7 linked regions of the Homo sapiens genome follow. The protein of the gene in region 4 purifies or fractionates together with the protein of the main gene of each other region. This does not show direct contact. Each region holds a gene or a part of one and is shown on either strand. Other genes may lie near its edges.

The links.
Region 1: the proteins of TPD52L1 (region 4) and CYTH3 purify together in Homo sapiens (co-immunoprecipitation; one large-scale study listed by IntAct). This does not show direct contact.
Region 2: the proteins of TPD52L1 (region 4) and GSR purify together in Homo sapiens (co-immunoprecipitation; one large-scale study listed by IntAct). This does not show direct contact.
Region 3: the proteins of TPD52L1 (region 4) and RNPEP purify together in Homo sapiens (co-immunoprecipitation; one large-scale study listed by IntAct). This does not show direct contact.
Region 5: the proteins of TPD52L1 (region 4) and BLVRA purify together in Homo sapiens (co-immunoprecipitation; one large-scale study listed by IntAct). This does not show direct contact.
Region 6: the proteins of TPD52L1 (region 4) and XPNPEP1 purify together in Homo sapiens (co-immunoprecipitation; one large-scale study listed by IntAct). This does not show direct contact.
Region 7: the proteins of TPD52L1 (region 4) and PGM2 purify together in Homo sapiens (co-immunoprecipitation; one large-scale study listed by IntAct). This does not show direct contact.

The regions. Positions count from the first base shown.
Region 1 is NC_000007.14:6,269,423-6,273,928, reverse strand, and holds the start of CYTH3 (cytohesin-3), read left to right. Parts: upstream 1-1,304; 5' UTR 1,305-1,421; coding exon 1,422-1,455; intron 1,456-4,506. UniProt on the Homo sapiens protein: Promotes guanine-nucleotide exchange on ARF1 and ARF6. Promotes the activation of ARF factors through replacement of GDP with GTP. Plays a role in the epithelial polarization.
Region 2 is NC_000008.11:30,717,548-30,721,504, forward strand, and holds part of GSR (glutathione reductase, mitochondrial isoform 1 precursor), read right to left. Parts: intron 1-3,957. UniProt on the Homo sapiens protein: Catalyzes the reduction of glutathione disulfide (GSSG) to reduced glutathione (GSH). Constitutes the major mechanism to maintain a high GSH:GSSG ratio in the cytosol.
Region 3 is NC_000001.11:201,995,920-201,999,876, reverse strand, and holds part of RNPEP (aminopeptidase B), read right to left. Parts: intron 3,731-3,957; coding exon 3,614-3,730; exon of another isoform or gene 3,468-3,613; intron 2,559-3,467; coding exon 2,323-2,558; intron 1-2,322. UniProt on the Homo sapiens protein: Exopeptidase which selectively removes arginine and/or lysine residues from the N-terminus of several peptide substrates including Arg(0)-Leu-enkephalin, Arg(0)-Met-enkephalin and Arg(-1)-Lys(0)-somatostatin-14.
Region 4 is NC_000006.12:125,152,089-125,156,707, reverse strand, and holds the start of TPD52L1 (tumor protein D53), read right to left. Parts: upstream 2,936-4,619; 5' UTR 2,757-2,935; coding exon 2,738-2,756; intron 2,463-2,737; exon of another isoform or gene 2,176-2,462; intron 1-2,175.
Region 5 is NC_000007.14:43,789,455-43,793,411, reverse strand, and holds part of BLVRA (biliverdin reductase A), read right to left. Parts: intron 2,164-3,957; coding exon 2,044-2,163; intron 698-2,043; coding exon 600-697; intron 1-599. UniProt on the Homo sapiens protein: Reduces the gamma-methene bridge of the open tetrapyrrole, biliverdin IXalpha, to bilirubin with the concomitant oxidation of a NADH or NADPH cofactor. Does not reduce bilirubin IXbeta.
Region 6 is NC_000010.11:109,881,797-109,885,753, forward strand, and holds part of XPNPEP1 (xaa-Pro aminopeptidase 1), read right to left. Parts: intron 2,353-3,957; coding exon 2,271-2,352; intron 847-2,270; coding exon 636-846; intron 1-635. UniProt on the Homo sapiens protein: Metalloaminopeptidase that catalyzes the removal of a penultimate prolyl residue from the N-termini of peptides, such as Arg-Pro-Pro. Contributes to the degradation of bradykinin.
Region 7 is NC_000004.12:37,825,060-37,829,755, reverse strand, and holds the start of PGM2 (phosphopentomutase), read right to left. Parts: upstream 3,071-4,696; 5' UTR 3,024-3,070; coding exon 2,943-3,023; intron 1-2,942. UniProt on the Homo sapiens protein: Catalyzes the conversion of the nucleoside breakdown products ribose-1-phosphate and deoxyribose-1-phosphate to the corresponding 5-phosphopentoses.

The sequences.
Region 1 (4,506 bases), on a different chromosome or scaffold from region 4:
AAGATTGAACTTTGAAATCATCCCGCAACCTTGAACCAAAAGGTGAAATTGTCCACTTTGATAGATGACAACGGAAGGATCCTTTGGTTCAATGGACAGCTTGTAAATATAAAACAGTTGCTGGAAAATTATATTAGAGATGAGCTATCTCCTCCATTACAATGTTTGCTTTTCTTTAATGCGATTGAGTTCCAACAGAAAGGCTTGGGAGGGGCCACAAGCAATGCTTCAGGAGTTACTGGAAGAGAGATATGGGGAGTGAGAGAGGAGATCCATCGATGTGGAGCAGGGGCCAGGGGAGGCCTTCTGCCCAGGAGGCCTGTGCTGAGGACCCTGGCTGTGCCCAAGGGAAACTGAATTCAGAGCTCCTCCTGCATCATAAATCCAGGACAGCTGGCAGCTCTCCAAGGAAGACTGGCGCTAAACTCCAAGGGCATCAGCCGCCAGATTGGCCAACCCCTACAATGCCCTTTGAGAGCTGAGCCCCAGGTGTGTTGAATCGGGATTCCGTTCCAACCTCATGACCACATTCATTTACAAGCCCTGCATTTTGTTAATTTAAAAATGCACTCACCAGGAGGGAAGGAGGAGAGGCTCCATTAAATATAAGACAGCTGAAAGGCTGGAATTCTTCTGACATGCATGTCTTAGGAAGGAGAAGGCCTGACCTTGTTCTTTTTTTTTTTGAGACAGGGTCTCACTCTGTCACCCAGACTGGAGTGCAGTGGTGCAATAATAACTCACTGCAGCCTCTACCTACTGGGCTCAAGTGACGTGACCTCCCACCTCAGCCTCCCCAGTAGCTGGAACTACAGGCACATGCCACCATGCCTGGGTCGCTATGTTATCGGGGCTGGTCTCCAACTTTTGTTCTCCAGCGATCCTCCCACCTCAGCCTCTCAAAGTATTGGAATACAGGTGTGAGCCACCGAGCCTGGCCAGGCCTGACTTCTGAATGCATTCGTTTCTTGATCTTTTACCCCGAGTGCACGTGCAAGTTGCACCCCTGGCCACTGGGTTTTGCAGAGTGTGGCGTTCCAGTGTCCGGGGCCCCACGCCCGTCCGCAGGCTACTGGAATGCTGAGGGCGAGGAGGCTTCGCTCCACGCACACCGGATCGGCCTGCACTTCAGGGGCCAGGTCTACAGCCTTCCCCAGCGCAGACGCCGCCGGCCCGGCCGGTTCCCGAGGGCGGGGCTGCGCGGCCTCACGCCCCGCCCACCGCGGGCAGAGGCGGGGCATGGGTCACGTGACGGCACGCCGACCAGCGAGGCCCCGCCCGGCGGGAGGAGGCCCGGCCGCGACCCGGGCCGCGCGCTGAGGAGCCGCCCGGTCGCCTGCGCGCTCCCTCCGGCGGCGTCCCCAGCCCGCGGCCCCTCTGCTGCCGGCCCCCGGCTCGCCGGCTGCGGGAGTGGCCTCAAGATGGATGAAGACGGCGGCGGCGAGGGTGGTGGCGGTGAGTGTCGGAGGTGTGGTGGGCTCGCCGGCGGCCTGGGGTCGGGGGCCGGGGGCTGGGGGTCGAGGGCGCGGCGCTGGGCCGGGGTTCGCCGGAGGAGACGGGGTCGGGGGCAGCGGCAGCGGCGTCCGCTGGAGGCCTGAGGCACGCCGGGCCAGGGCCGAGGCTGGGTCTCCGGGGGCCGAGGGAGGGGGCGGGCCGGGGTCGCCGTTCGGCGCTGGCGAGGGTCTGGGTACCAGGCCGGGGCTGCCGCGGGCTGGGGTCGCCCCGGAGTCTCGGGCCGGGGTTTGGGTGTCGCTCCTCTGGGGCGGGGGACCTTGCGGGGCGACCTTCCCCGCATCTTGTCGCCAAGGGCGTTCATGCCCTCCGGAGCCCGGCGTTTCGGACGCCCCCTTTCAGCTCAGGTGGGCGGAAGCGGCTGAGCCGGTGGGAAACCGGGAGGGGAAAGTTTTGCACTGGAGGCTCCTCGAGTGTACAGGACGGGAGGGCAGGGGAAACGGTTGGAAAGCGTGACAGTCTGCTTGGCTTTGGGTCAGAAACGGTCGCTGGATTTGCTCGAACGGGGAGGGGGCCAGCTGGAGTTCAGTTCAGGGTAGACGTTTTAGGAAACGGCAGACGCGACAGATTGAGCAAAAAACTCCGTGGAGCCGAGGGTGGGAGACACGAGCTGCACCCAGCACAGAGGCAAGACCGGAGAGCCAGGTGTGCCCGGAGCCAGGTGTGCTCCCGAGTGGGTCGGGTCGATGCGCGTCGTGGCCCAGGTGGTCTGTGTCTGACGTTCGGTTTCCTCTTGCTGGAGGAATCGTGTTTGTTGGAAATTATTTAGTGGAATACAAATGACTGCTGGGTCATGCTGGGAATTAGATTTTAAAAACAGAGGAACGTGCCTCTGTATGGAGTGGGTGTTCGCTTTGGAAAGCAAAGGGTTAATGCCCGTGTTTTTACAGGAACAGCCGAAGTTGAGGTTCTCTAGACTTTTTTTTTTTTTCCTGAAGATCTCCTTTGAGCTGACAGAGAAATCATCAGAATCATCAGAACCCCATGTAATAAGGGAGCAGTTTAGAGAAATCTTAATTACAGGCTGCCGGTGCAGCTGCCTGTAAGAATCAGCAGTATTGAATGCTTCAGGATGAAGTGGTTCATCATCAAGGTGCCTTCCAGAATTCAAGTGCTGCTCAGAGGGAGATGTTTTTTTGCTGAAAGACGCGATGCAGCCAGGATGGTGGGAAGTTGGCACCCGTCATGGCATTTGGCGAGTTCAGTTCTTATAGTTGAAGCTAGGGGTAGCACTGTGGCACCGAGTGGGTGTGTTGATGGGAGCGCTGTGGAACGAAGGCGCCCAGTTGCGAACCCTCCTACAGTCAGGCTGTCTGGAGCCATGAGATCCTAAGGAATGGGTTCCCGGTGGATGTCGTGTTTCCTGCCTGTCACAATTTGGGCATAGCTGTTTTCCCTTGTTAGAAAAGAAAGACAACTGTAATATGCAGACGTTGGACATTAGCGTCAAGGCAGCTAGCTGGCTTGGCAGTTTTGTTTGTAAGGTGCTTTGGGCTCTGTGAGTAAAGAAATGTAGACTTGAAGATTAAAGCAGGAATAAAGAGGAAAAGAGGAGGCTTTAATGTGCTCCAGCAATTTGCAGGTCTTGAGTACTATAACAAAGGATGATATGAAGTATCAAAAGTCTTAAAATTGTCCTTGGGTTGTTAGTATCTCTTCTGGGAATATATCACAGGGAAGCAACCTTGAAATAAACCCCTCACGTATAAAGATGTGTATTATGCTGTTTAAAATAGCAAAAAATTGGAAACAGCAACGCCAACAGCAGGGGCATGGTGAGGTAAATTATGGGAAGTTTATTGAAGTATTTTACAACCATTAAAATAAGCAGTTTTATACATCATGGTTTAAACAACATAAACATTGGTGACATTATGGATTATTTTATTTTCTTTTTATATTTTCCAGGTTTCTGGAATAAGTGTGTATTTCAGATTGGAAAAAAACCATCAAAGACGTGAATGTTTTAAGTGTATCATTTAATTCATCTCACTGGAACATTCAACAATGAAGATTTATTTATTGATTGCCCATCAAAATGCTAGCCAGCATGTTAGGTGCTGGAAAATAACTTTTAACCTTTATTGATTTAGTTTATGACTAGCTTTCTCCCTTGCTTTGTGACAGACACTTAAAAATATTTTTGGCAATATTAGGATATTTATTTTTGAAACAGGTGAAAAGCAAAGTTTTGAAATATGAGTGATATTGTAATTATTGTATAAACTTTATGTGCTTACATTTAACTCTTGGCTGTTGTAAGTTTTGAAGTTAACATACCTCTTTACAGTTAATACCTTTTAGATTTTTAAATGCTTTAAAATTCATGTTTAAAAAAATAAAGTTGAGCTCTTTTAAAGAAAACCGTTTCAGCTGCCAGCAGATTATAAAGCATAACATTTTTTGGTATATTTTTAGAGTGTAGTACATAATGTTGAACTGTATCTGGGGGAGTCAGTTAAAGCTTGTTTAAAAGATAGGGTAAATAATCTATTCAAACAGTAGTTATGGTAGAAGCCAAAGATAATTGAAAAGGTCTTTTTTTTGTTAATGGTCAGGTTAAAAGACTTGAAAAATTGATTCCTACTTGCTATTTTTATAAGTTAATTTAGCTTTTTGTCCACTGTATTGTTCTTTCAATGCAAGATAAGGAGAGAGAGGATGGTGGCATGAATGGCTGGAAGGCAGTTACAAGAGGAGCGAGTGGGGGGCACAAGATTACAAGAACACATTGTTCCTTACAGTGTGTGCAGAGTGTAGTTAAGTCGTTTTTAATTCCTATGGGACTTTGTTGCCTTTCAGTTTTTCGAGAACAGTTCTTGAGCTAATTGGAGGGTAGCTGGCTAGTTTGGCTCATTGGGATTGTCTTCGTGTCCTGTTTGGGCATTTGTCTGATTGATGGTCCTGAATGGACCATCCCTGGCAGATGAGGTGAATTAACTATAATTGGCATTCTTCTCTCTGACCCCTTCACTCCCTGATCAATGTAGGTGT
Region 2 (3,957 bases), on a different chromosome or scaffold from region 4:
TTCAGATCAGTGGCGGCATTAGATTCTCATAGGAGCGTGAACCCTATTGTGAACTGTGCATGCAAGGGATGTAGGTTGCACACTCCTTATGAGAATCTAATTGCTGATGATCTGTCACTGTCTCCCATCAGCCCCAGATGGGACCAACTAGTTGCAGGAAAACAAGCTCAGGGCTCCGTCGGAGTCTAGTTTATGGTGAGTTGCATAATTATTTCATTATATATTACAACATAATAATAATAGAAATAAAGTGCACAATAAATGTGATGCAGGCTGGGCGTGGTGCCGCAAGCCTGTAATTGCAGCACTTTGGGAGGCCGAGGCGGGCAATTACCTGAGGTCAGGAGTTCAAGACCAGCCTGGCCAACATGGTGAAACCTCCGTCTCTAATAAAAATACAAAAATTAGCCAGGTGTGGTGGTGGGTGCCTGTAATCCCAGCTACTTGGAAGGCTGAGGCAGGAGAATCGCTTGAACCCAGGAGGCAGAGGCTGCAGTGAGCCGAGATCATGCCATTGCACTCCAGCCTGGGCAACAAGAGTGAAATTCTGTCTCAAAAAAATAAAAATAAATAAATAAATAAATAAATAAATAAATGTGATTCACTTGAATCCTGAATCATCCTGAAACCATACCCCACTGCTGGTCCGTGGAAAAATTGTCTTCCACAAAACTGGTTCCTGGTGCCAAAAAGGCTGGGGACTGCTGCTCTAGCTGACCTGTGCATCAGGTTGTTAGAGGGAGCACAGGCCTCAAGTCAGACAGATAGGAGTTTGACTCTCAGCTCTCCCATTTAGTGGCTAGAGGTGGGTGAGTTTCCAAATTTCTCCTAGCTCAGTTAAGGGAAGAATGCTTCCATTATGGAGATTTTGAGCAGGTCAGAGATAAGGTATATAAAGCATCTATTTCTAATCTATGATAGATGTGATGGTGACTCTGATACCTCTGAATTATTTCTGCGTCTGCTGGCTCCCCACACGCACACAAGGCATACGGAAAGGCGGAGATAAATTCCCCAGGGGCCTTCCTACCTAAAACACATCAGCTGATCACAAAGGAAGTTTGCCTCCCAGACTGGAGCATTATCAGATGAGTTCTCAGGGCTCTGGTTGCCCAGAGTTGCACATTGCTAAGACCCTCAGCATACAACACTGGCAGATTCCCCGGTTCTCCAGGTGGGCATTAATGAGGGATAAGAAACAAGTTTCTTTTTTTCTTTTTGAGACAGAGTCTCACTCTGTCGCCCAGACTGGAGTGTGCAGTGACACAATCTCAGCTCACTGCAACTTCTGCCTCCCAGGTTCCAGTGATTCTTAGCTTCCCGAGTAGCTGAGATTATAGGCACGCACCACTATGCCCTGCTAAGGTGTTTTGTTTTTTTTTTTTGCTTTGTTTTGTTTTGAGATGGAGTCTCACTCTTGTTGCCCAGCTGGAGTCCAGTGGTGCCATCTCGGTTCATCACAACCTCTGCCTCCTGAGTTCAAGCAATTCTCCAGCTTCAGCCTCCCGAGTACCTGGGATTACAGGTGCCCGCCACCACGCCCAGCTAATTTTTAAATTTTTTTTTTTTTTTTTTTTTGAGACGAGGTCTCACTCTGTCATCAGGCTGAAGTGCAGTGGTGCGATCTCGGCTCACTGCAACCTCTGCCTCCTGGGTTCAAGCAATTCTCCTGCCTCAGCCTCCCGAGTAGCTGGGACAACAGGTGTGTACTACCACACCTGGATAAATTTTTTTTTTTTTATGTATTTTTAGTAGAGACGGAGTTTCACCGTGTTAGCCAGGATGGTGTCGATCTACTGACCTCATGATCCGCCCACCTCGGCCTCCCAAAGTGCTGGGATTACTGGCCTGAGCCACCGCGCCTGGCCAATTTTTGAATTTTTAGGAGAGATGGGGTTTCACCATGTTGACCAGGCTGGTCTCAAACTCCTGGCCTCAAGTGATCCACCCACTTCAGCCTCCCAAAGTGCTGGGATAACAGGCGTGAGCCACCACACCCAGCTAAGAAACAAAATTTCACAGGCTGTTCAGTAAATACATCATCAAGGAGACTCCTGTAACTCAGCCTCCCTTTCCAAACCGATGATCCATTCCTGAGAGCTTCCTTTTCCAACCAATCTAGTGTTCAGAACCCCGATCAGTGGGCCTGCTGGCATCAATCTAGTGTTCAGAATCCCGATCAGTGGGCCGCCTGTTATCTGGTGATAACAGGTGGCAAAATTCAGAAGCTTCACCATTTTTCCTAGGGCCTGCCTCGTTACCTTCAATCCTGCCTAGCCAGGTAGAAACTTCACATTGCCCATGTTGGCAGTAAAACAAGAACTTGGTTAATCTGCAATTGCGCCTGCCAAGAACATCAACTGTGTTCAATAGTGAACTTGCGGCTGGGTGTGGTGGCTCACGCTGTAATCCCAAAACTTTGGGAGGTGAGGTGGGAGGACTGCTTGAGCCCACGAGTTAGAGACCGGCCTGAGAAACATAGTAAGGCCTCGTCTCCACAAATAAAAAATTTAAAAATTAGCCGGGTGTGGTGTTGCACGCCTGTAGTCCCAGCTACATGGGAGGCTGAGGTGGGAGGATCGTTTGAGCCCAGGAGTTTGAGGCTGCCATGAGCTATATTGCACCACTGCACTCCAGCCTGGGTGACAGAGCAAGACCCTGTCTCAAAAAAAAATTGTTAACTTCCTTCCTCTGGTTCCCCACAACCTCCCACCACAGAATTGCCTACAGTTTCCTCCCTCTGTCGTCCTTCTTTGCTGCCTAAAATCTAATTCAAGACCAGAATGAGAACTACTCAGAAAATAGACGAGTCATAATTTCCAAGGCAAAACACTATCGATTTATCAACTCAATTATTTCAGCAACTATATACTGAGTACTTGCTATGTGCAAAACACTGTTCTAGGGGCTTGGACTATACTGATGACTTAAACAGATAAAGATCCCTGTCTCTGTTGCATTTCATCAGCTTTACACCAACCATGACTAAATATAATGCTGTCTGGACATGGCCCTGTCCCTGGCACATATTCACTATTCAATATCCATGTCTCCACCTTCAAAGTCTTTTTTTTCATTTCAGATGAAGGTTAGTTCAGGGAGGCATCAAACTTGAGAAAAAGAGAAAAAAAAAAGCAGTCTGTGTAAAGCAGAATCTAAAGCAAGAAAATCAATGGATACATTTGCAAGAGATATTAACAAAGGCTGTTTTTGTTCAATTCTTAGCTAAGCAGAACATTAACCTGAACCTTCCAGTCTCAGGAAATCACCAGATTTTTAAAAAGTGTGACTGGGTGCCGTGGCTCACACACAGGTGTGTAATCCTAGCACTTTTGACGGGTCAAGACTGGAGGATCCTTTGAGCCCAGGAGTTTGAGAGGAGCCTGGACAACACAGCGAGACCCCATCACCACAAATAACAGCCTGTAGTCTCAGCCAGTTGGGAAGCTGAGGCAGGAGGATCATCTGAACCCAGGATATTGAGGCTGCAGTGAGCCATGATCGTGCCACTGCACTCCAGCCTGGGCGACAGAGTGAGACCCTGCCTCAAAAAACAAAAAAATTTAAAAAATAAAAATAATTGTTACGGGCATCCGGGGAGAAGAAGAAAGAGTTTTGTGAGACAACTCTTCTGGATGTCAGTCCCCACTATTACCTGATACCCACCATCTCCCGTCCCCCAAAAAGAAAAGGACCTAGGACCTCCACATCCTATTAGGCTGGTGCAAAAGTAACTGCAGTAATATTTAATGTTGCAACACCTAGTGAATAGAAGGTAATGAATTCTCACTGACTGGAAGCCACTTACAAATGCCAAAGTGGTCCGGGCATGGTGGTTCAGGCCTGTAATCCCAGCACTTTGGGAGGCCAAGGTGGGCGGATCACTTGAAGTCAGGAGTTTGAGACCAGCTTGGCCAACATGGCAAAACTCAGTCTCTACTAAAAATATAAAAAAAT
Region 3 (3,957 bases), on a different chromosome or scaffold from region 4:
CGGGAAAACGTCTGTCACCACATCCAAGTGTATTTTCCTGACAGAGACACTGTGCTGCCTCCTTGTGGCCTCAAGAAGAACAGCGACAGATACCTGAAGCTTAATAACATTACCCTCCTGGGGACCCAGGGCAAATAGGGACAGTTACAGAGAGCCTGACTCAGTCCCTAGCTCCCTGTTGCTGTGGGCTACAAAGGACTTGGTTAACTCAGGCTGTTGGTCTCTCTCCTAAGTGAGGACTGGGGGAATCGCACCTTTCTGACAGTTACCTTTCCTTATCAAAGTACTGTATTTTTATTTTATCTTATTTCATTTATTTTATTATTTTATTTTTTGAGACAAAGCCTCACTCTGTCACCCAGGCTGGAGTGCAATGGCGTGATCTTGGCTCACTGCAACCTCCGTCTCCTCCTGGGTTCAAGCGATTCTTCTGCATCAGCCTCCTGAGTAGCCGGGATTACAGGTGTGCACCACCACGCCCAGCTAATTTTTGTATTTTTAGTAGAGAGGGGGCTTTACCACGTTGGCCAAGCTCAAACTCCTGATCTCAGGTGATATGCCCGCCTTGGCCTCCCAAAGTGCTGGGATTACAAGCGTGAACCACCACGCCCAGCCCCCGGCCTTATTTTTAGAAAATGATTTGATTTTTTTTTTTTTTTTGAGACAGAGTCTCGCTCTGTTGCCCAGGCTGGAGTGCAGTGGCACGATCTCGGCTCACTGCATCCTCCACCTCCTGGATTCAAGCAATTCTCCTATCTCAGCTTACCAAGTAGCTGGGACTACAGGCACACACCATGATGCCTGGCTAATTTTTGTATTTTTAGTAGAGACGGGGGTTTCACCATTTTGGTCAGGCTGGTCTCAAACTCCTGACCTCAGGTGATCCACCTGCCTCAGGCGTGAGCCACCATGCCTGGCAATGACTTGATCTTCTGTGAAAACTTAGAATTATTTTCATCTAACTGTTTCTGTCAGACAAAAGAAATTATCAACCCCAAATTTTTAAGGATCTCTAAGTCTCCTTCTGCATTAAAAACAATGACTGAGGGAACAGTGGAGGGGTGGGGCACAGGGTTTTGGAACCAGCCAGCTCTGCCCTTTCCTAGATGTTTTGACTCTGAGTAAGTGGCTTAGCCTCTCTCAGCCTCAGTTTCTTCAACTGTACAATGGGATAAAAATATTTGCTTGCAGGATTCCTAATGGCTGATTAAGATATTCACAAACAGGCTCTTGCTATATATATTCTGAATGAAAGTACAGAATTTGTACAAACTTTCTGGAAGATAATGGACAATATGTACTAAAAAGACTATGTAATTTAAAACGTTCAGGGCCGGGCGCAGTGGCTCACAGCTGTTGTCTCAGCACTTTGGGAGGCTTAGACAGGCAGGTCACTTGAGGCCAGGAGTTCAAGACCAGTCTGGCCAATATGCCGAAATCCTGTCTCTACTAAAAACATAAAAACTAGCTGGGCATGGTGGTGCATGCCTGTAATCCCAGCTACAGGGAGTGGGATGTGGGGGAGCTGAGGCAGGAGAATTGCTTGAACTACGGAGGTGGAGGTTGCAATGAGCCGAGATTGCAACGCTGCACTCCAGCCTGGCAACAGAACAAGACTCTGTCTCAAAAAAAAAAAAAAAAAAAAAGTTCAGACCCAGAAATTATGTTTCTAAGAATTTATCATTGTTGAAATCATCTGATATGAATAGACATTTATGTGTAAGGAAATTTGTCAACATATTTCAATGGAAAATTGGAAACAACCAGTAAATTAAAAAACATCCATATATGCAGCTATAGAAGAAAATCTAATGGGCTGGGCATGGTGGCTCACGCCTGTAATCCTGGCACTTTGAGAGGCCGAGGAGGTTGGATCACCTGAGGTCATGAGTTCGAGACCAGCCTGACCAACATGGAGAAACCTCGTCTCTTCTAAAAATACAAAATTAGCCAGGTGTGGTGGCGCATGCCTGTAATCCCAGCTACTCGGGAGGCTGAGGCAGGAGAATCGCTTGAAGCCGGGAGGTGGAGGTTGCAGTGAGCCGAGATCGTGCCATTGCACTCCAGCCTGGGCAACAAGAGCAAAACTCTGTCTCAAAAAAAAAAAAAACTAATGACCTGGGGAAATGTTTTTTTAAAAAAAAGTCAGTTGTCAAACCATGTGTGGTTTGACAATTCATACATACAGAAAAATGTTGGATACACACTACTGCCTCGTCTCTTCACACCCACTTGTATTCTGAAACCCCATAAGGAGATCACACTGGCCCCACAGGTTAAGAATGGGAGGCAGACTCCTTAGGAGAGGGGTGGGCACTTTACCAAAGAGGATGGTGGAGATCCTCCTCTGGGCGTACATGGTGAAACCTTCATTGAGCCAGAATTCACCCCAGTTGGCGTTGGTGACCAGGTTCCCAAACCAACTGTGGGAGATCTCATGGATGATGACATCTGCCAAGGAGCGGTCCCCAGCTAGCAGGCAGGGGGTGACAAAGGTCAGACAAGGGTTCTCCATTCCTCCAAATGGAAAGGACGGTGGCATGAAGAGCAAGTCATACCTGCCGAGAAGCGGGGAGGTCACCAAGAGGCCCTGGCTTCCCGGAGCAGACCCTACCTCGCCTCCCTTTCCAGCCTATTTCCAAGCCCTAACAGATGCAGTCACTAAACAGGCAGAGTACGACTTCGGGCCCAGTGCGGAAAATAAAGCCCAGGCTCCTCAATGCTTCTCCCACGTGGCTCCCCTGCCTTGCTGGGACTTCCCTCATCGAGGTGGTGTCTGCTCTCCTGGAGCTCACTCTCCAGGCATTTGTTTCCCTCTCTCCTTCCAAGCAGGGGTGGAGGTGATAAATGTATTATCAGCTCCATCACATGGAGTTCCCTGGAGGCCAACTTGGGGTCATAAAGACCAACCTGGAGCCTTTTATCTAAGGAGCCTAAAGTCTGAAGATGTCAAAGTTAAAAACAGAGTGTGGGGAAACTTCCAGCAATGGGAAAACACAGGTCAACAAAGGACCTTGACGGTGCTGCCCCATCTCAAACTTGGCAACTGCAGGTCACATTTTGAACACCTCAAGAACCTCTTCTCTGCCGGGCCTGGTGGCTCACACCTGTAATCCCAGCACTTTGGGACCAAGGTGGACAGATCACCTGAGGTCAGGAGTTCGAGACCAGCCTGGCCAACATGGTGAAACCCTGTCTCTACTAAAAATACAAAAATTAGCTGAGTGTGGTGGAGGGCGTCTGTAATCCCAGCTACTCTGGAGGCTGAGGCAGGAGAATCGCTTGAACCTGGGAGGTGGAGGTTGCAGTGAGCTGAGATCACGCCACTGCCCTCCAGCCTGGGTGACAGAGCGAGACTCCATCTCAAAACACACACACACACACACACACACACACACACACACACACACAAAGAACCTCATCTCCTAGGCCCTCTCCTCAGCAACAGTGAGAAGCCTGGCTCATACCCTCCTCTCTTCCTCCTCTCCTTCACTTCTGGGATCAGGGAAACTTTGCTCTGGGAGGCAGGAGGTGGAAAAGCCACACGAAGAGGAAGAATGGAAGCCAGTGACTCAGTTTAACAGGAGACACTAGAGTCAATGTGATACCACACCTTCCCCAAACATAAGGTCCAAAAAGCTTCTCTCCTGTTGCCAAAAATTCTTCTATCACCCCGTTGTACTCCTCCTTGGCAGCATCAATCAGGCAGGGCTCAGCCCACACCCGGCTCCTAAAGACAAGAGAGCAGAGAAAGCAGAATGGTGTTTAGAGACCATCGCAGTGACCTGATCCTGAAAGCACCTGTAGGAAATTGGCCTCCGCCAAGTGAATGTGACAATGCAGTCAGCCACAGTGACGGAGTGCAAGATCGGATCACCACACAGATCCAAGAGACCGCTCACCACACCTGAGAAACAAGAACCCAAGACAGCCTCATGGAGGTGGAACCGTGCTACG
Region 4 (4,619 bases):
TGCCTCCACCTGCTGGGCTCAGGTGATCCTCCCACCTCAACCTCCCAAATAGCTGGGATACAGGCACGCACCACCACACCCAGCTAATTTTTGTATTTTTTGTGGAGACAGCGTTTCACCATGTTGCCCAGGCTGATCTCAAACTCCTGGGCTCAAAAAATCTGTCTCCTCCAGCCTCCCAAAGTGCTGGAATTACAGGTGTGGCTGGCCTTTTTTGTATCTCTCTCTTTTTTTTTTTTTTTTTGAGACAAGGTCTCACTCTTGTCCAGACTAGAGTGCAATGCTGGGATTTTGGCTCACTGTAGCCACAAACTTCTGACCTCAAGCAATCCTCCCACTCCAGCCTTCCAAGTAGCTAGGCCTACAGGCACATGCCACCACACTCAGCTAATTCTGTTTATTTTTTGTAGAGATGAGGTCTCTCTATGTTGTCCAGGCTGGTCTCGAACTCCTGGGCTCTAAGTGATCCTCCTACCTTGGCCTCCCGAAGTGCTGGGATTACAAGTGTAAGCCACTGCACCTGGCCTCTTAAGTATTTATTAAATCTGTTCACTTTTCTCATATCCATTTGCCTTTTTACTAGTCCTCTTTACACCTAAAGTTTCCATCCAGTCATGAGGGGAAAGGAAGAGCACCACAGGACAGCTGGAGATTCAGGTGGGGACTGAAGTTTTACCTTTCCTCCAAAAGTCATAGGCTTTGAGTGAGAATGGGTCCCTCACAGCATCCACTTTGCTACTTTTTACCTATCTGGCTGTAAACAAGGAACTTATTAAAAAGTCATGGCAAAAATTGCAATTACTTTTGCACCAACCTAATACCTTCCATGCTTGTTTCCTCTCTGTAGAATGGGAATGAGAATATGAACTACCTCATGGGACTGCTGCGCACAGGAAATGAGTCCATCAATACATGCAAAGCACGAAGAACAGAGACAGGGACACAATAAACAATCTGCTCTTCTGATTATTGCATACTAGGGTTATAGTTTTTCAGGCTCTCGCTGCACTATGAGGCCCTTTCTTAGCATCAGCATGGCAGTGATTTTACATGTTATTTTTCAAATAGCTATCAAATTAATATTTGTCTCTTCCTCTACTGTAAATTTTATGAAGCAGATACCAAGTCTGTCTTTGCTCTTCTTAGCACAGTGCTTGGCAAAGGAAAGCACTGAAATATTTGTTAAGTAAATCTTGGAAGTAAAGCAAAGCAATAAAGCAAACCAGTGACACCAGTGGTTACCAGTCTGTAGTTTCGGATGTCTTCAGAAGTTGTATGAATGTTTCCTATCTGCTATAGTTCTTCTCCATCCTCACTAATATAAGCTTTCAAATATACCCATGTTCAGGTTCCAAAGATTCCAGTTTGACTGGGATGGGGTTGGCCAAGGCCAGTAATGAAGACTCTCTAAATAATTCTAATATGCAAGTCAGGTTGGAAAGCTCCGGTGCTGCTCCCACCAGCTTCAGTTCTGGCGTGAAGGCCTCCAACCTGACCTCTGCTTTTGAATTTGACCAACTGCCCTCACCCTTGGTTGAATTATCATTTCCTATCTACATAATAGAGGAAAAAATATGGGAAGCGGCAGCTTTACGGGCAGGACTTAGGAGGATGGAACAAACGAGTAAGGTTCGTGCTGTTCAGACAATTGTAATCCTGGCAGCAAACCTGTTGGGCGACTCCAGGCCCACGCAATCGCCAACCCACTCTCATTCAGGGCGTTCTGCCCCTAGAGGGCGAGCGCATCAGGTCATGAACCTTTTTTTTTTTCTTTTTAATGAGATTTTATCTATACTAAGAGCCAACACAGAGTTTCCTACTGTGTAAAAGAATGGTGGCTTTGATTGCCTTAAAGGCTGAACTCCGCAAGCCATCCCTTCTGGGCGTTGCTCCCCAAGGTAGATCACTGAGTCCGTTTCCTTCCCACTTGTCTCTCGCTCCACATCCGCCCACCTCTGCCCCTTTCCACGGTCCGTTTACCCCCATTCTTGAACGATTCCATCGGAATTCCCCAACCCTGTTCCAAGTGTGACCCCAAGATATGAGGCCGCCCTTCCTGAAGCCACCGCAGGCTCCTCCAGCAGGCAGCCCCGGGAGCAGGGAGCTGGGCGGCCGGGGGCCCCGCGCGCCACGGGAGGCAGAGGTCGCTCCCCGATCGCGGAAACCGGGACTCACGTGTGGATCTGCTGGAGGTCAGGGGGCCGGTAACGTTCACCTGGCCTCGGAAGGCGGGTCCCCGAGCGGGAAGCGTCTCGCGCAGCCGGGCTGCGGAGCCACCCCCTCGGCGGGCGATCCTCTCACTCCCTAACTTGGGAGCCACAAGCCGCGAGTCCACGGCGCTGGGCGAAAAGAGTCACATTCCCTCCCCACTCCCTCAAGGGAAAGGGAGCGAAACACGCTTTCCGGACCCGGCACAACAGGTCCTTCGGGCAGCCGCGAGGTTGGGAAGGCCAGGGGCGACTGGCTGCGGAAGAGGGTAGAGCATTCCACGGGCGCATTTCCTGAGGAGGGGCCTCTCCACTTACGGATCCCCTGTCACTTTATTGATCCCCAGACCCACAGCAAATCCTGAGTTTGGGCAGCAGGCATTATACCAAAGGCGCGGGTGGGAGTGGAGTTCTGGATGTGCAACACGGCACCAATCTGTTCTGTCCGAGAGCGAAGTTAGGTGGTGCAGGAAAAGAGCCTTTATGCGCGCCCCAGGACCTGACTCTCGGGGCGATCGGCGACCACTCACCTTGTGCCTGCGCCTCCATGGTGGCTGACTTCGAGCTGAGGGCGGCGGGGACACCCTGGTGCTTCCCAGAGCAGATGGCAGCTGCGCCCAGGCTCAGAACGCAGCTGGCCCCGCCGCTCGCTCCCACTCCTGGCACGCGTGTCGCGAGCGCTGCGCGGAGGGGGTTGGGGACGCAGGCAGCCGCCACTAGCCGCTTCTGGTTACCTCCGCCCCTTCCAGTCCACCTGGCCCAAACCAAGCTGGAACAAGCTCGCCGCTGGGCGCCACCTGCCGGCGCTCTGTACAGCCGGCGGAAGGCACCCACTCCCGGCGCTATAAGGGCATAACGCAGAGATATTGCAGGTTAGGTTCCAGACCCCCGCAATAAAGCGAGTATTGCAACAAAACGAGTCACACGAATTTTTCAGTTTCCTAATGCATATAAAAGTTACGTTTGCACTATGCTGTAGTCTGTTAAGTATGCAATAGCACGATGTCTAGAAAGAGCAATGTACCTACCTTAACTTAAAAAGATATTTTATTTCTAAAAAATGCTAAAGATCATCTTCACCTAATGGGAATCTTTTTGGTGGTGGAAGGCATTGCTTGGATGTTGATGGCTGCTGATTGATCCTGGTAGTGATTGCTGAAGGCTGCAATAGCTGTGTCAATTTCTTAAAATGGGACAACAATGAAGTTTGCTGCATCAATTGACTCTTCCTTTTATGAAAGATTTTTCTGTAGCATGCAATGCTGGTTGATAGCATTTTATCTACATTATAACTTTTTTCAAAATTGGAGTCAATCATCTCAAACCCTGCCATTGCTTTATCAACTAAGTTTATATAATTATAAATCTTTTGCTGTCATTTCAACAATGCTGTGAACAACTTCACCAGGAGTAGATTCCATTTCAAGTAACCATTTTCTTTGCTTGTCCATAAGAAGCAACTCCTCAACCATTCAAGTCTTATGAGATTGAGCAATTTACTCACATATTCAGGCTCCACTTCTAATTCTAGTTCTCTTGCTATTTCTACCATATCTGCAGTTACTTCCTGCTTTGAAGTCCTGAACTCCCAAAGTCATTCAGGAGGGTTGGAATCAACTTTTTCCAAACTCCTGTTAATGTTGACGTTTTGACTTCCTCCCACGAATTATAAATGTTCTTAATGGCATCTAGAATGGTGAATCTTTTCCAGAAGGTTTTCAATTTACTTTGCCCACATCCAACAGAAGAATCACTATTAATGGCAGCTATCTATTTATTTCTTAAATAATAAGGCTTGAAAGTCAAAATTACTCCTTTATCCATGGGCTACAAGATGAATGTTGTTTTGCCAGGCATGAAAACAACATTAATCTCTTCGTACATCTCCATCAACTGTTGAGTGACAAAGTATATTATTAACCAATATTAAGCAATAATATTTAGAAAGAAACATTTTTTGAGCAGTAAGTCTTAATAGTGGGCTTAAAAATATTCAATAAACCATGCTGTAAACAGATGTACTGTCATTCAAGTTTTGTTGTTCCATTTATAGAGCACAGGTGGAATATATTTAGCATAATTCTTAAGGGCTTTAAAATTTTCAGAATGGTAAATGAGCTTTGGCTTCAATGTAAAGTCACCAGCTACTTTTGCCCCTAACAAGAGAGTCAGTTTGTCCTTTGAAGCTTTGAAACCAGGTATTGACTTCTTTGTAGCTGTAAAAGTCCTTGGTAGCATCTTCTTCCAATATAAGGCTGTTTCATCCGTATTGAAAATGTGTTGTTTCGTGTAGCTACCTTCATCAATGATCTTAGCCAGATCTTCTGGAGAACTTGCTGCAGCTTTGACATCAGCCCTTGCTGCTTCACCTTACATTCATGTTATGGAGATGACTTCTTTCCTTAAGCCTCA
Region 5 (3,957 bases), on a different chromosome or scaffold from region 4:
ACCTCCCACTTAGTAGTCATGTTATTAGCTTTGTGACCTGGCACAAATTAACTTCTTTGAGCCATATTTTTCTATACAGCATCTAGAGAAAATATATACCTCCAAGGGATTCTAGAAGAATTAAGCAAAATAACATATGAAGTGCTTAGCAGAGTTTCCAAGTTCCTAGCATATACTAAATATTTAATAAATGGTTATTCCTGTTTAGAAACAACAAAAACTACAAACTATGCAAATAAGACAATCAGTTTCTCTGATTTGAGCATTTTTAGGATATCCCAGCATTTAGCAATATAAGTATCACATGAATAAAGCCAAAATAATATCATGACATAAGCATAGGTGAAAACTAATTCATATTTTTTCCTTAGAGTGAGTAAAATAAGCTGATAAGCTTTGACCAAAAGTTTGCAAATTCCCACCCATCCTTCTGCCCTCCACTATCTGTGTTTACAGTGTGGGGGTGAGGAGGCAGTTGGGAGCCCACAGTGCCAGTGTAGCCAGGAGGAGGAGATATCTGAAATGGGGTTAAGTTTTAAAGGCATAAAGATGATATCACAGAAATCCTGGAGGCAGAAACTCTTGGTAAGATACATTACCTTTCTGCTCAGCCAGCTCCCACAGTTCCTGAGCGGCCGCCAATGACAGTGTCATGGGGTATTCCACAAGGACGTGCTTGCCAGCATTAAGGAACTGCCTTTGGTAAACGAGACAAATACAGAGAAAGAACACTTCGAATAAGCTTCACTGAAATGCTCTGCATAATAGAGAACAGAATGTTATAAAGGCATGAGAGTTTCTGTGTGTGAATGTGTCATGACTGGGGGTAGGAGTCAGTGCCACGGGATATGGAGGAAGAACTGTATCCCACATTGTTTTCTACTATCCTGTGACAGATCAACTTTCTGGTTATGTGTTAATTTGAACATTCAACCATTCATTTATTCAACTAAGTACTATTTACCAATTACTGTGGAGGAGAAATAAAGACACATTAACAAATAAATTTCCTATCACCACATGGTAGCTATAAAGGCTACAAAACCCACAGCGGCTAGCTTTGCCTGAGGCAGTCTGAAAAGATTTCACTAAGGACCTATGAACTGGGTCTCAAAGTATGAGCAGACATTTTCCAGGTGCAACATGTGAGTATATTTCACTGTGAGCAGCGTATGCAGGGGCTTGGGCATTTGTGGGGCTTTGTTCAATCGGCAAACTTCAGTGTGGCAGGGGAGTGGACTACAGGCCGTGGAGGATAATAACGTTGGAAAAGTAGCTGGGGGCCTGACTGTGAAGGACCTACAATTCTGTGCTCAGCAGTTCAGATTTCATTCTGTGGATACCAGAGTACAAATATTTATAAGCATGGGACTTATGTCAGAATCACTTTTCTTAAGGAAATACACTCTGGTGCCAGAAAAGGTTAAGGAAAGCCAAGGAGAGGTGTTTTTGTCTACTCTAGAGCTAGACTGATAAAGAGGAAGCATCTTACCCGTGGGAAACAGCATGGTGGGAGCAGCTGTAAGAACCTAGAAGGAAGCTAGACTGAGGAAGGCAGCTGGCACTTCCCTGTTAGCTGCCAGGTCCTGAGGGTTAAAGGAACTCAACCGTTATTTTATGACATTGAAAGCACAAAGGAGAAAACGTTGGAAGCTGATCCAAACTGAGAAGGGAGTATGATAATTTGCCAAGGATGCCGGCTCCACATCCTAAACTGTCTGGTGAGAAGAAGGAGGCCACTACTGTTGAAAACTACTCTCGATGGGTTTTTACAGAGAAATAAAACACTTTAATTCTGAATGTTTCTAATGTTTCAAATTACACATACTAAATATTAATTTTACTATTTTTCACTTCCTTATATATTTATAACCAGCAATAAGAATTTCTTAATGTTTTGACACTTCTGTGATTGGTCACAGAGCAATTGTAATTTTCTCACTGGCTCTTCTGACTCCTTTGCAGGGTGTTTTAGCTTGCTTGCTCATTTTTGCAGTACTGCACTGCTGTGTAAGGCAAGGACTGCCTGTGTGGAAAACCCACCTGATGTAGTCCTCATGGCTGGAGCTCTCACTGCAGATATAGGCGACCTCCACCTCTTGGCTGGAAAGAGCATCCTCCAAAGAAATCTGCTGGACTCCATCAATGCTCCCGAGCTCCCTTCTATTTCAGAGTAACAGAGAAATGGAACTCAATGGTAGACAGAAGAAAGGAGCACCATCCTTCTCCCCTCCTCCCGACAGGTCCTGGTGATCTGCTGCCAGAAATGAAGAAATGAGTTTCTTCTCTCCCACTTCCAGGCTATTTTCCATTGTGGAGTGAGAAAAATAGCCTCAGAGTTCAAGTCAGGGGATCTGGCATTGAGTGCCAACAGTACCATTCACAGCGTGTATGACCTGGGAGAGTCTTGAATTACTTCATCTCCAAAACAAAAGAAACAGCTGGGCGCGGTGGCTCAAGCCTATAATCCCAGCACTTTGGGAGGCCGAGGTGGGTGGATCACTTGAGGTCAGGAGTTCAAGACCAGCCTGGCCAACATGGTGAAAACCTGTATCTACAAAAAATACAAAAGTTAGCCAAATGTGGTGGTGGGCGCCTGTAATCCCAGCTACCTGGGAGGCTGAGGCAGGAGAATCACTTGAATCCGGGAGATGGAGGTTGCAGTGAGCCGAGATTGCACCACAGCACTCCAGCCTGGGTGACAGAGCAAGACTCCTCAAAAATAAAATAACATAAAAATAAAAGGAACAATCTACTTTTATCTCATGAGAAGTGATCTCTATGGTCACTTCCAGTTCCAAGCACTTGGCCAAACATTGTGACTACCAAACCTAATCCAAATCCAATACGTTAACACATTTAGGGTGCAAACTGGCATGCGACTTCGAGCTACTTTATAGCTAAGCTAACGAAGCCCAGTAGTATGTACGCACACATGTTTGTGTGTGTGTGTGTCTGTGTGTGTGTTTGTGTGTGTGTGTGTGTCTTCCTCCCTCTGGCCGACTGAGCTCATTGGAAGGTGAGGAATTCGTTCTCCATGATTTCTCCTATAATGCCTAGCACATAATAGGCAGTGATAGCCTTGACTAACCAGGAGCAGAAGCAGGAGGGGAACCCAAGGCCTTCTGACTCTTCTAGAGCATGGGGGAGCTGCAGTCTTCGAAGAGCCAAAGCCCCAGCAGTCCGTACACCTCCCAGTGCAGCGGCTGGGGCAGGAGAGTAGCCCTCTAAGGGTGGCAGTCATGGGGGAATGTGGGACAGCTAGCAAGCAGAAGGCCCTCAGCCCGCTCAGAGCTCCAGCTGAGCTGCAGCAGGCAGAAAGCATTCAGGAAAATTTAGCTCCCAAAGAGTATTATGCTAGGTTTCTTTAATGGGGCCACCCAAACTAAATTGCTCAATTTCAGCAATACTTATTGTTTGCCTATTATGTACTAGGCGCTGTAGGAGAAATCATGGAGAACAAATTAAAATCATCGCCTTTCAATGAGCTCAGTCAGCTAGAGGAAGACACACACACACACACACACACACACACGTACATACCACTACCACAAGACTACCAGGAGAAATGTGGTGCTTGGAAGTAGGAGATGGAGACTCAGGGTGGGAAAGGAATACACCAGAAAAGCTTCCTGGGGAGGAGGTAGAACTTAGCAGGTAGGTCAGGAAGGGAAGGGTATGTGAAGAGGGAAACAGTGTGAGTACTGGCAGGGCTGTCATGCAGGGGTGTGACCTGGCCATCCTCCCATACAACCTGGGTAGTGTAGGTGTTCCCACTGAGCTGACCCTGGAAGCCAACTGGCAGAGGACTGGGGCTTAAGGGAAAAGGAAAGGTCCCATTTCAGCCTTGCGCCCAAGTGCTGTGTGTGGTCCCAGCTCCAGATAGGGGTGCGATGGGGGTTACGGTGCTGCCTGATCTTAACTTTGCTCTCCCATTTGTGTGCAGCTCCCTTGGAA
Region 6 (3,957 bases), on a different chromosome or scaffold from region 4:
TGAGGCAACAAGTGTCAGCTGCTTAGCACTGCCCAGCAAGGGCTCAGTAAAGGGCAAGGCTATCACTATCACTTGAATTTGACAAATCCCCAAATCCCCAACTCCCCAATCCTCTCTGAGCCTCAAGTGTCCTTAGCTATAAAATGTGGTGCGGCAGAAGGAGGGGGTAGAGAAGCATTTCCCAAGCTTCAAGCATTCTTATACCACCTGCACAGCTTTTACCCTAGCTTCTTAACTGCTGTACCCTTATTCACTTAGTACTTTACTTTAGACCATCTTTAAATCAGCTTTATTAAATTCAACTTTATTTTAAATAATTATATCATGAACTCATGCTAGTTATGTTTTTTCTATTATATGCTAAATGCTGTTAAAACAGATATATTTAAGCAAACCTAAATAATAATGTGTACCACCTAAAATAATCTCTCATGCCACACTCTGGAAAACACAAGACTCAACAAGCAATAAGGGCCCTCAGGCTCTTGCTATGGCTCCAGCTTTAAGGCCTCATCCATGGAGACCACAGTTCTGATCCAACAGGCAGCCTCAGAAATCTGCCTGTGCTCCAAAGACAATACCAGAACTGGGAAGGGGGTGGCAGAGTTTAGATGGGCCAAAGTGGGGTCACCAACCTTGGGGATGGTCTCGCTCACAGCATAGCTGGCCTTGTCACTGACCCACACCTTCTCCCTTGGGGAGAGGTCAGCACACAGGGCCTTGAGCTCGCTCAGGATGGACTTGTAGGGATGCACCTGGATCCTGTATTCGGCTTCCAGACCCAAGTCAAGAAGCAGGTGCTCCTTCACACTGGGGGCGTCTATGCGGTCACCATCAATGAAGAGCCTGCAGATGGAGGAGAGGTGGGTGGCAGAAAAAGGAGGGAACATGAGTGAGAGGTGGCAACACAGACACACATACACATCAGGCTCTGTTTCCTGGCAACCAAAACCAAGCCCCTTTTCTCTCCTCCCCACTCCTTTCCCAAATCCTGCCCTCCAAGGTGCATTCCCTGCCCCCATCCACCCAATCTGCCAAGCCAGAAATCTGGGCAGTGTCCTCCTTCACTGATGACCCTCTTCCCGTCCTTCATTAAGACCTTGGGACCCACAGCCTAAATCTCCATCTAATCTGTCCAGCTCATCTACAGCCTCGCCCAGTCACCACTCAGGTTCAGGTCCCACCATCTCTCACTTGGGTTAGTGCCACAGCCTCTAAGTCTTTCCCCATCTACCGATGTTTCAGTCATAATATTCTTTACAACTTGTACATCTAACATGTGGTTCCCTCTGAAAAATTCGTTCAATAGCTTCCCACTATTCTTGTTCAGAAAAAGAACCCAAGCTCCTGAATGTGGCCCACAAGGCCTCTCTTTTCTGTGGCCCCTGCTCACATTCTGGCCTCACTATGTTCTGACCTCACTGAACCACTTCAGGTCCTCCACATGCACTGTGCTCTCTACTGTCCAGAGTCTCTGAAAATGCTGTTCCCTCTGCTTGGATCATGGTTCCCCGCCCCTCCTCACCCTGCCATTCACCTAACTCACCCACATTTATCCTTACTCTCTGCTTCAAAATATTACTTTCCCCAAGAGTCTGCTCTGATCTCCAAGTCTAGGTCAGGCCCCTCTCGTAACACCTGTATCTGTCCCACAAGCAGACTGGTGCCCACTTATGTGCCCAAATACTTTAGAAAGAGGACATGCTCATCTCCCCAACTCCAGCCAAGGACCCCGTCCTGTTTCAGTCACCCTAGCACCTAACAGAGACCCTTAGCACATCACCAGCACTTAATAAATGTGTTGTCTTAATGCAAAAAGCTATTGAAATAGAACAGTAATGAAAAGAAGGCCACACGAAATGCTTTGAAAAAATAAACTGACAATTCAACAAAGCGTAGTTGGAGGGGTTTTCCCATATTATTTTTGACCTTCAAAATGACTGGGTTTATTTGCATTGTGGACCCAGAATTGTATAATTGAGCATATATACCCCTTAACACTGGCTGCTAGAAAACTTGACATCAAATGGGTGGCCCGAACTATAGACACTTTCATGCGTTTCAAACCATTTTGGGGGCTCAAAGAGAGGCAGGATATAAATAAACACCTACTGCTAAGGAAAACAAGAAGGGAAAATGTTAAAAGGGCAAGAAAAAAGAAGCACATCAGTGAAATATCAGGCAGTGATGGGTGGGCCAGGACCAGAAAGGGCACACTAGGGCTCTGAGGAGCTCTGGAAGGGAGTTCCAGATGCAGGGCAAACACTCACATGATCGTCTCTAGTCCTATGATTGCGTAGGAGAAAAATACTGGATTGTGCTCCACATCTGATCCTCGGAGATTAAATAGCCCTAGAAAAGAAATCAAAATCCCTGTCACCTGTCTGACTTAAGATGTTAAGGGGTCGCTTGTAGCGGGAGGGAAGAGCTTCAGCTTGGAGTCCAGCTGCTGCGCAAGGATTCAGTGGAATCGCACAGAAAGGCTGGAAGCCTGACTCCCGTCTGGTTCCACCTCTGAGCTGCAATTGCTCATGTCCACCACGTGATGGCACCAGAGCTGTTTCTCAGGCTTCCACATCACTGCCCGGAGAAGGGAATAAAAGCTATTAGTTGAAATCCTGAGAACTGCCCCCACAAGGAGTTGAAATGATCCGCCTAGTGGTGACCTGCCAGGCCTGGCCTTGAAGCCGACAAACCTCTGGCGCTCCCAAATAAAAAGGAAGGAGACGAGCACTCTCTCCCTTCTGAGGCAGATGACCTAGGGTAGAAAAACTGAGACCCTCCCACAAGGGAAGCCAGGCAAGCCTCCTCTGTAAGGGTCAGTGAGCCCCATGGAGACGGAGCTTCCTGTCAGAGGTGGAAAGAAAAGCAGTGAGTCAGCAAGGCTGCAGCTCACCAATGAAATCAGAGCCTGCAGCCCACCCATGGGTCTGCTCTGGCACCACGACTGGGTGGGGGACCTGCGGACAGCCAGTAACAGTGATGTTGCTGAACGTCTGAGAACTAGACAGACCAGGAGAGAGCACAGTTCTGGTCCCAGGACTTCCAGCTTCCGTCACTTGTTCTCATGAGGATCAGAGCAAAAAAACGCCTGGGCATTAAAAGTATAACCTCTATTTTAAAATAATGGCTTCTTAAAGTGATGAGGCACCATTTTTTACCTATCATACTAGCACTTCTTTAAAAATGACAGTACCTGGTGTTCAGGTGTGGCAAGACAGACAAATTCAAATACAAAGGTGCAAACTTTCTGGCAGACAAAGGGCAAGATGAGTCAAAAGCCCTAAAAGCCAACCAGAAATAGGAAGAAAATTATCAAACACTAAGACATGGATTCATGAACCAAGATTTTGATGGTAGCATCATAATAAATTACAGGATTACTGCAAATAACCCAAAGGTCATCCTTAGGGAAACAGTTAAATAAATTATGGTATAACCACATGATGGAGTATTTAATACTCACTTAAAATTATGCTTGTATATGCTTATAGTGTACTGATACAGTGAAAAAATCAGGCTATAAAATGATATATGCATAGAATATTGACACTGATTATCTCTAAGTAACAGAATTTATACGTGATTTTTTTTTTCTTCTTTTTACTTCCTCTGCATTTTCCAAGTTTTCTATCATGGGATTGTGTTTTTGTTACAATCAGGGAGAGAGAAAAGTTTTACAGGTGTTTTTCTCTGACGTTGAGATCATTAAGTTAATTAGGGATGTAAGTCACTGACACACTTGACAATGTTTTGTGGATGGAAGATGCAGGGACTGAAGAGAGAGGACACTGCAGTAGGGTCTCATTCTCTAGTGAGAAGGCAAAAAGATAAAGCAGTGCCTCTTCTCAGTTGCCCTGGGTCAAATCCACTCAGAAACCAGAAGACAGGACAGGAAGGTTCAACCAGATTCCGTCAGGTTTTAGATGAAAGAAGGTGCTGAACAACTGCATGAAG
Region 7 (4,696 bases), on a different chromosome or scaffold from region 4:
TAAGCACCTTTGGAGAAATCAAAGTAGAGATTTTAGCATATGAGTCTAACCCCCAGAATGGAATCCCAGAATACCACTTGCCAACTCTAGGTGCTTGCGCAGATTATTCCAGTTCTCAAATTCTGTTTCCCTATTTGCAAAATGGGAATAATCTAGAACCTCCCTTACACGATTTTTAAGGTTTTAAGGTGGTTTACTTCAAATTAATGTAAAATATCTTTCTCTACCTGGCATTTAGTTGTGATTAAATGTCCATTTTTTTCCCTAATGCCCTCAAATTTTCCAGAGTGATAGATTACACAACTTAAGTCAAAACCTTACTTTTGTAATGTTTTATAATTCATACCAGGCATTCACATACCTGGTCAAGTTTGAATATTGTAACATCTCCAAGAAGTAGACAAATAACAGAAACCCAATTTTATAGATGGGGAAGCCTCAGAGATTGGGTGACTTGCTTAAATTGCAAGATAAACATTAATCTAGTGCCTTTTCTATAACATTAACTGCTTCAAATAGACGCTAACATGATTCATTTAAGTTCATTATACATTGCCCTATTTTTTTTTTGTATGGTAGTTGCAGAAAATGTTATGGTTGGAGAAAAATAATGACAATCACATTAGTTTCATATGAGACTTTTAAGTTATGAATTCAGGAAAACAACAGAGGAAGGACTTTATATTCCTGTTTTACAGTCATTATCCATTTAGATGAGCACTCACGCAGGACGTGGCCATTTAATTAAACTTTGAAATACTACTGCAATAAAACCTTGGCTTTCTGGAATTAAGCCCACATTTCCAGATTGTGGCAGATTCAATGGGAATCAAGTAAACCCCATCTTTTTTGGTGAAAAACAGCAGATGCTAATTACAGAACACAGTCTTACCTATCAGATTGTCAGGTGCCCCAAAGAAAGGCTCAGATCAGGTACATAAAAGAGGCTCATAAAAGAGCCTCAATAAATATTAGTGGAGTGAATCAGAAAACATGGACTTCACTGCCACACTCAATATCGAGTGATCCTCCCTTGTTCATAGTGTAGGTCTGGAAAATCTTAATTGGTCTTTGATATCTATGAAAGACTAAGTAGCCTGAGAGAAACAAAGGAGACAGACAGGTAAGAATGACAAGTCAAGAGTACAGCAGGATCAGAATCAGCCCTGGCAGTGAGCAAAACTGACAGCAGAGAAAAGAGCAGGGATGAAGGCACGGTGGAAAGACAGAGGGCACCTGCCAGGGCGCCTTGCCAGTCGCCGGGGGTAGTCTGACTAGAGGGCTGCAATGCTTTTAGCTGGTGGGAGGTTCACTGGAGAATGAATGGGCTTCTTCTCAGGTGCCAGTCTCAAAGCAAAGAAGAAATTAACAGAGGATAGAACATGAGAAGTGATTAAAAAAAAAAAAGGACATCTCATCTCTACCCAGAGAAATACAATTTTTCTATACACAGATGCAACACTGTGTAGAAATTAGATTGTTTTCTTCTTCTTCTTAGAGAAAGTGCATTATGAACTCTGACTTCAAAAGAATTCTGTACTCTGCAAGCTACAAGTTATCAGAAATGGAAACATTTTTCTTCCCTTGTGAATCACAAGGTTATCTTCCCAGGAAAAGAAAAACGCCCCCAAGGAGTTGCCAATAGCATCCTGGAAATGGGATTTGCTGACATTTTATTTGTAGGGGCCAGAGAATGGTAAATAAAGACAAAGACCTGACCCCTACTGACCTTGTAATCTTCTTTGTTCATTCAAGTATTTCAGTGACCTACTATGTGTCATGCACTATGCCTATGCCAGGCACTACAAACCAAGGTAGTGAGAATAGAGAGGCCTGGCCACATAATTTATGGAGGTCCAGTGCACAATGAAAGTGGGTGACCTCTTGTTTTACCAGTAAGACTTTCAAGACAGGACAGCAGGACATTAAAACAACAGTGGGCCCTTCAAGGAGCGCGAGTCCTGTGAGACTGCAGGGGTCTCTCGCCCCTGAAGTCGGCCCTGGAGACAGACATTAAACAAACCTACAAACAAGTGTTTTTGGAGTTTTTTGTTTTTACCATTTGTAGTAAGAGCTATAAAGGAAAATAACAGACTGTTTAGAGTGAATATTAGGGATAAATAATTTAACGCTTCGGAGCCAAGGAAGGACTGACTCTCTACGTAAGCCACATTTAAGTTCAGGCACAAAATATGAGTCACAACGGGAGAAACAAGTTCAGCAGGAGAGCAGCGAGGGACATTCCGAGAAAACCTAACAGCAAGCAGAACAGGTCGAAAGGGCGAGACGCAAGTTTATAGAGAGGAGAGGGAGTGATGTCCAGAGCTGGGTTCCTGATTCTAAGAAACGGAATGAAGAGAGAGAAAACCGTGCTGTGTCCCAGGTGTGCCTCCCTGGCAGTCAAAGTTCTAAGGGGGACTCCTGAAGCCAGGCGGGCCCACCCGGGAGGACAACCCACGTTTGTAACCAAGCCCTCGGGATGGGAGGACCGGACCAGAACGCTGCTCTGCAAAGGTCTCAGCGGCCAAAGGAATACGCGGGACGGAGCGATTCTGGGTCCATGGGGATGCACAGCCGACTACCGACGACGAGCCAGCGGTCTGAGTGACAGTAAGGCGTGCGCCCCTCAACTAGACAGCGTCCAGGGTCTGGCCGCGCTTACACCACCCTGGCTCGCTCCTCTACTCCGAACTTGCAGTCCGGCCGGCCGGATGGCTGGTTTCGTCCGGGGACAAGCCTTCCCGGCCTAACTCTGAACGTGCCGCATGCCGGCCAGGTCGAAGGAAGCCTAGCAGCGGCCGTACGCTCCTGGGTCTTCCCGGGGGAGAAGCGGGATGCACTGGGCGGGAAGGCAGCTCAGGCAGAGCAAGCAGCGCCGCGCCTGGAGAGGGCAGAGCACCCGGCCCCGCTCCAGGCGCTCCCCGCCTGCTGGTGCCCCTCACCTTGTCCCAGCGCAGCCACTGGGCGGTCTCCTGGTCCAGCCGGGCGTCCTCGCCTAGACCGCTGCCTTCTGGAGCCGCCATCGCTGAGCTTGTGCTACCGCTGCAGAGGGAAGCAGGCGGTGAGATCTGCCTTCCGGCCCGGCCCCAAGACGTGGAGGCGGAGGCGGGGGCGGGGAGAGCCGCGGCGGAGCCAGTCGGTCCGGGGGAAAGTGACGCGCGCCGCGGCGGGCACGCCTCCTTGCCGTTTGCGGGTGCGCTGCAGGGGGTGGGAGTGAGCGAGGAGGAATTGCGGGGCTAGGGTGGGTTGCTGGAACCTGGCACGTGTGAGAAGGGTTTGCCATCGTCTCTGATGCATCCAGGCTACAGCCAGCCGTGAGTTCCTGCTGCGCGCCAGGCACATGTCAGATGCTGGGATACCAGGAAGTGCACCCAGATAGGGGCCTGAAGACTATGTAGAAACTCAGAGGGTCAAGAACAGCCAGAAAAAAATCTTGAAAAAGAAAAGCAAAGTAGGAAGACCAGTGGAACATAAGATAGAGACCAGAAACAAAAATACACGTGTATGGACAATTTATTTCAGAGGCGGGGCTGCAGAGCACAGGAAGGAACTATTTTTGGTTAATGGTGCTCGGTCAAAGGGATATCCACGTAGGGAAAAGAAAAAAGGGAACTTGGCCCCCTACCTCCCATCACACACAGCTCTGAACTCCAGATCAATTGTATCTCTAAGTGCGAAAGGTAGTGTAGCAGGAGGAGCCGCAGACAAAACTCCTCAGACACCGGATTAAAGAAGGAAGAGGTTTTTATTCGGCCGGGAGCGTCGGCAGACTCGCGTCTTAAGAGCCGAGCTCCCTGAAAAAGAAATTCCTAGCCATTTTAAGGGCTTACAACGCTAAGGGGTCTGTCTACGTGAAAGGGTCATGATAGATCAAGTAAGCGTGAGGAACGTGACTGGGGGCTACATACATCAGCTAACAGAACAAGAAGTTTTACAGTGCTTTCTCATACGATGTCTGGAATTTACGGATAACGCCAGTAGTTTTGGTCAGGGGTTAATATTATTATTATTATTTTAACCACCAGGGCCAGGTGGTGGCGCCAAGGTCGTCTAGCTATTTATCTTACTTCTGTTTTTTTCCAACTTTTTGCTTTCTCTCTTTTCTCCTGTCTTATAAACTAGGGAAAAGGGGAGGTGGGGGAGAAGCTGGGAAGGACAGCAGAAATGGTGGTCTCTTTCCATAGTAGCGTGAAACTTAGGGAAACTAACATAGGAGCACATCTTCCTGACGCTGGTATCACCAAGCCATAAAGAAGATGCATACCCATAAGCATAAAAAAGCACGGGCAAGAATATTTCTAGCAGCATTATTTGTAAAAGCCTCAAACTGGAAACAACCCAGATGACCATCGACAATACAATGGATAAATACTTGGTAGTATATCCATACCAATTCATATAAATAAATCATGGCACATTGATAGAGCAATGCAGGTGAACTACTGTTATACACAACATCATGAATGAATCTCACAAACACTGAGTGACAGAGTTCAAACACCCACCCCCATACCCCGTCACCCCAAAATACTGCATCATTCATCTGTAGTCCCAGCTATTTCGTGGTGGGGGAGCTGGAGGGAGTCCTGAGGAGGGAGGATCGCTTGAGCCTGGGAGGTCGAGGCTGCAGTGAGCCCTGATTGTGCCACTGTTCTCCAGCCTGGGAGACAGAGGGAGACCCTGAAAAAAAAAAAAA